Regions from separate parts of the Homo sapiens genome. Here region 2 is linked to region 1. The links come from fine-mapping of genetic effects on gene expression. A gene starts in region 1. The other region holds a variant in brackets. All regions are shown on one strand. Distances are between the middles of the regions.

Evidence for each region. PIP is the estimated chance that this variant, and not a neighbour inherited with it, causes the effect. A credible set is the group of variants that fine-mapping cannot tell apart.
Region 2: its variant is the best candidate, but not a certain one, in a credible set for the expression of CLEC4D in thyroid (GTEx, PIP 0.58).

The regions. Positions count from the first base shown.
Region 1 is chr12:8,511,746-8,514,671 of GRCh38, forward strand. CLEC4D (C-type lectin domain family 4 member D) reads left to right here and starts at 1,758. Exons shown (of 6, transcript NM_080387.5): 1 at 1,758-2,015. The coding sequence starts at 1,988. It also overlaps the pseudogene SUPT4H1P2.
Region 2 is chr12:8,534,145-8,537,070 of GRCh38, forward strand. It overlaps CLEC4E (C-type lectin domain family 4 member E), which reads right to left. Exons shown (of 6, transcript NM_014358.4): 5 at 1,946-2,061; 6 at 1-665. The coding sequence ends at 494. Among named protein-coding and RNA genes, the nearest start is that of CLEC4E, 5.3 kb to the right of the region's middle. The variant C/T (reference allele first, on the strand shown) is at 1,157.

The DNA of each region.
Region 1 (2,926 bases):
AAGGAGCACGACAAAGCCTCAGGATTTCTTCAAGGGATACTGCTGTGCCAGGTCTCAAGGGCAGAAGGATACAAGCACAAGACACCAGGGCCACCAAGCTGATGGGGTTACTGAGCCTCTGGACAGCACCTTCTGATAGGAAGCAAGGAAGCACACTACAAAGGCTGCAATCCTGGAGGCTGAGACAGTCAAGAGGGAGTGGAAGGGCCTCTGCTGCTCTGGGAAGGTATCTTATAGGGCAAATAAGCTCTTACTGTGTGCCTAAGAGAAAGGAAGAGGGAAGCGAGGCAGGTGTCATGGCCTTAAGAACTTTCTAGAGGTTTCTATTTATTGACATTTGACCTAGACCTCTTCATGAGCAAGGCGCAGCCTTGGGCTACAGGTAGGAAAGTCAGCATCCTACTCTCTCCTCAATTCCATCTGTTAATCCACCAACCCAAATCCCTCCCACCCCCACCTGAAGTCCAAATAAGGTAAAATGATAAAATGATGTGCTGTTCTCTCAACAGTTGGCTGAGTCTGAATTGGAGGGTAGGAAGCATTTGAAGCTCTGCCCATTTAGTTCCAGAACAAAAAATAAGCAGAGGCAGGAGGTGGAGAGCAAAGACGCTGGCAGCCCTGCGTCTGGTCTTTATAGCTGTGTCTTTGGATTTGTAGGCCACTCCTCAACTTTTCAGCTCCCGCACGATTCCTTAGGGCAAGCGACCAGTGGTTGACACCGCATATACACCTGGCTTAAAGTTATTGACTCGCTGCCAGTTGGAGACCCAGCTGTCCTCTGGACTCATCATCGCAATGATTCCATCAAAGGAGGAGCTGGTGCAGCCATATAGCATCTCTCAGTTACCCTTCATCTGTAGATATGCATCTCAATAGTCACAACCATCATATTCAAACTGGTCTATAGTACCTTGACCAGTGAACACAGCAAACAGGCCCACAGATGCCACAGGTCCTTCAGCACCGTCTCCAGGGCCATCTTCTCCAATGAGAAGAGCAACAGCAAGGAAGATGGCCACAGCCTGAGCACCCGCAGGAAGTAAACAGCTCGTTAGCCGGGTCTCTTCTTATAATTCCATCATGAGGACCCCATTCTCATGACCTCATATTAAACCTAATTACCTCCCAAACTTTTGACCTCCAAATGCCATTACGTTGGAGGGTAGTGCTTCCACCAATGAATTTTGAGGAGATACAGACATTCACTCCCTAACAGTGCTATAAATGAAGTCAGGGACCCTGATGGTGTCTTTATCACAGAATCTTACATTTTCTTTGTCTTTGCCTTAACACAACTCTTTTTGCTCACCTAGAAAGTTCTTGGGATTTAATTAACTGCTCTATCATCTCTTCCTCAACTCGAAAACAAAGGTTGCTGTGTCTTCACATGCCATGTACACACAAGGTATACTTTAAAAGTTTTTGTTCATTGTTCACATTGTCTTTTGCTCTCTTAGACTCAACTTTTTATTCAGTCCAGAGAACTTTTTAGTATAGAACTCACCCCAAGAATATAACTGCCTTTGAAAATATAATATTCACAAAAAGAATTTAAAAAGAGGGGACATTTACTAAATTTTTATTGGGCATAACAATTATTTCTTTTAGGGCGTTGCTAAATTTTTTGTCTAAATGAAAAAAAAAACAAATTGAGAAATTCCACATTTCACACTGATCTAGTGATCTCAACATACTTGTGGGTTTCTACTAACTGTTGTTTGGTATTGCTTTCTCAATTTCCTTTTTTTTTTTTTTTCGCCTCATCTCCCGGAATGTATCAAAGGAAACCCCTGTCTTTGAAAAAGACTTCTTTTGAGCTAACTTTCTTATACTGGTACCTTTCTAATCTCACTACAATATGTAACATTGGTGTTCGATCTCAAGTATTTCTGAATATATTCCCCTATCCACAGAAATATACTCTGGGGGAAAAAAAATAGAACAAATTCTTGCCGTCCTGACCATTGAACAAGAGACTAATTAGACAATGGGGCTAGAAAAACCTCAAAGTAAACGTGAGTACTTTCTCTCCTTTCCATTTCAAAGAAGCAGATGGAATTATACTAATTTAAAACATATGAATTGATGGTAGTTTTAAAGATTGTTGATGATGACGGGGAGAAGGAGGTGGAAGGAAATAAAAATGACGTTGGTGAAGAGGAAGGACATAGAGTCAAATAAGTTGGATAACAGAAACTTCTTTATAAAATGTATATTGGACCAAGAGGGGAGATAAAATATATAAAAGAGAAATAAGATGAAAAGAAAGAGAGTAATATGAGAAGATTCTTTTAAAGAAAAAAGAGAAAAGGAAGATGTAGAAAAAGCATTTAGGCTTATGCTGTATCAGAGGCTCTAACTGTCCCATTTTATGTTTGACTTAAGTGACACCAGTGGATTTGTATTGTGATAATATTAAATAATATTTTTGATAGATATATAGAACAAGTGTGGAAATGTTTAAATTAAAATTAAAGTTTTACTTTATCTCATCACCCTACCATGGCAAACTGTAATCACAGTGTGATCCTATTGAATTACCTTTTTAGGTAACAATATTTCTTAGAGATTTTTTGCATCAATATATACTGATTACATGCTTATTTAATTACTATACAGAATATCATTGTGTGAAGGGACCATAATTTAGAATTTCCACTATTGATAATATACATGTAAATATTAGATTACAGTATGTGTTTTCTATTTTGAGAAGTACTGCAATGAATATCTTTTAACATAAACAAGCTCAATTATTTCTATAGAATAGACACCTGTAATTGAAATTATTGTGGCAAATGAAATGCATTTAAAAATGGATAAATGCCACTAAATTGATCCTTCTAAAAGGCATTCCTAATTTTCCAGTCCAGGCAGCAGCATTTATTTTCTCACTAAGAGTGCTTATTTCCCCTCAGCCTTGCCA
Region 2 (2,926 bases), 22 kb after region 1:
AAGAAGCTTCTTACTCATTATACAGGGGAGTAAAGAGACGATATATGCTTGGGCAGGAGATAAGAACGGTATGAAACCAAGAAGAGAAGACAGACTTGTCAGAAGCTAGAAAGAAGAGGACCTGCTACAGAGCCCGGATTCAGGAGATTTTTGGAAGGCACCTTCCAAAATCCCCTTCTTTGCTAGACTCTGTCTTGGCTCCGTGTCCCTGTACTTTCATACGAACACTAAAAAATGAGGCAAATGTAGCAAAAGGTAGTGAATTGCTTTGTAAATTCTGGGAAGAGGACCTGAGACTAACGTAGAGAGAAAATGCACTTCAGCCAGTAACATGAATTATAACATTTAAAACTACTTATTTTTATTTATATCAGAGTAACAAATACTTATGAAGTCCTTTGAAGTTCAGCGCACAAATTTCTCGTGTGGGGCGGTGGGTGTGGCCATGTTCTTGCTCTTCCTTCTTTACACATTTGAGTTGTGCCTTCTGTTCTTAAAGAGATTTTCCTTTGTTCAAAGGATTTATTCCTACCATTTCACAAATCCGAAAATAATTGAGGAAACAGGTTACATCATTCCAATTTTGCCTTGGGTTTGAAGAGTCTCTCATGGTGGCACAGTCCTCCAGGGTAGCTATGTTGTTGGGCTCCCCTACATCCCAGAAGCTGAAAAAGAATGACATAGGAGACTTAAAATCCCAGCAAAAAGAGGTAAAGTAACCTAATATACTAGGCAAATTACATTTGTGTTATTTAACCTCACAACAATTTTGCGAGGTAGGTATTATAATGTCCATTTTATTGAAGAAGAAAAGGAACCTCAGGAAGCTAAACTAGTTGTCGAAGTCACAGTTTGTGAGTACTGAAGCTGAACCGGATCTTTCTGACTTTCTATTCTGTCCTGTTCCTTTGTTCCTTTTCTATTCTGTCCTGTTCCTTAGCTATAGAATGAGAAGTTATGGGGAAGATTGATATTCTGATAGATTTGTTTTCTTCACACTCATACCTCATATCGGCTTAGCTCTCTTTATTCTGCACAGAGTGTGTATTAACTTAGGTGCATCCTGCAGTGATGTTACAGTGTGGTAGTGAAGCAGCATTTCTAACATGTCAGAGTATCTCTGTTGTACTCTTAGAACTGCTCATTAGCTAAGTCA[C/T]TTAACTCTGCTGAGTTTTAGTTTCCTCAAATGCTAAATAAAGATTAATAATACTGATACATTCCAAGAAAGTGTAATTTAGGTAAAATGAAATAATAAATGAGAAAAAAAATTAAAAATGCTATGCTCTATCAGGAAGAATACCTAATGGATGCTGGACTTAATACCCGGGTCATGTTATGATTTCTGCAGCAAACCAAACCACCACGGCACACGTTTACCTATGTAACCTGCACATCCTGCACATGTACCCTGGAACTTAAAATAAAAGTTGAAGAAAAGAAAAAAGAAAAAACTCACTCCCTAACAAATCATGAGAATCAACATATATAGCAAAATATTTTATATATCAATTAACCAATCTAACAAAAAAAGCATATCCACAATAAAAAATGCTATGTTCTAATGACGTGAGGCTATTATTAAGGAGAAAAGAGACATTATCAAGAGATTCTCATTTTTCACTGCATAAGAACCTGCTGTCTTTCTCAACTTACTATTTTTTTCCTCATTTCCTTCAGTTTTGGGGAATAAGACTCTTAATTCCACCTCTCGTCTCTTTTGCATTCTCAGTGAATGATTCTTCAGTTCATTTTCATTTATTATTTCCCCTTTATTCTTGAGACAATTCCAGGAAAGGAGAGAAGTGGGTGCTTGTACTTCTCCTTCATCTTTTCTACCTTAGCTCTTCTCTTTCCTGCATTTAATACCACCACCAATAATGGACCTGATCTATTGCAGGTAACAGAAGGAGGTTTCAAGAACTCCTCTCAATAGGAGGGTAATTACCTCAGAGACTTTGTCAAAGGTGTGCCGTCCACCCATTGCCACTGACCCTCGACAACCTGGTCTGACAGTCCAATAAAAAACTCTCTCATTTTAGGTTTCTTGTAGGAAAGGAATTCCTATGGAAGATACAAAATAAAAGGAGATCAGTTATTTTAGTTTTGAATAAACGTTGCTAGTAATTATTATTCAAAGAGGTAAGAATCTGGATGAGATCCTAGCACTTTGGGAGGCCGAGGCGGGTGGATCACCTGAGGTCAGGAGTTCAAGACCAGCTTGACCAACATGGCGAAACCCTGTCTCTACTAAAAGTATAAAAAAATTTGCCAGGCATGGTGGCGGGTGCCTGTAGTCCCAGCTACTTGGGAGGCTGAGGCAGGAGAATCGCTTGAACCTGGGAGGCAGAGGTTGCAGTGAGCCGAGATTGCGCCACTGCACTCCAGCCTGGGCAACACAGCAAGACTCCATCTCAAAAAGTAAAAAAGAATCTGGATGAGAAATAACAGATAAGTGAAACTGTAAGATCATGAGGATTATCTACTGATTTTTTTTTGTGGTAAAATATACATAACATAAAATTAAACTGAAAAAATAACCTTCAACAGAAAAGGAGATCCTCAATAATTCTTTCAAAGTTTATCTACTATTATTGGTGGCCAAATTTATTGAATATATCTAGCGCAAAATATTATTAATCACAGCTTAAAGAAAACGGACAATATTTGCTTCTCTTCTTTCATATAATATGTTCATAAACATAACGATTCGTCTAAAATTAACACTTCCAACCCTCTTTTTCCCCTTGCCTAACTAAAGGAACTCCACATGGAAATTCCCTTTTTCTTAGGTTCTTCTAGGAAGGAAAATAAATTAAGGTAGGCAGTGACTTTACCGAAATAGTAAGAACAGCATGCATTTTAGTACATTCATTAACAATAGTCATTGGGGGTCAAGCACTGTGCATATGTATGAAAAGAGAGGTGG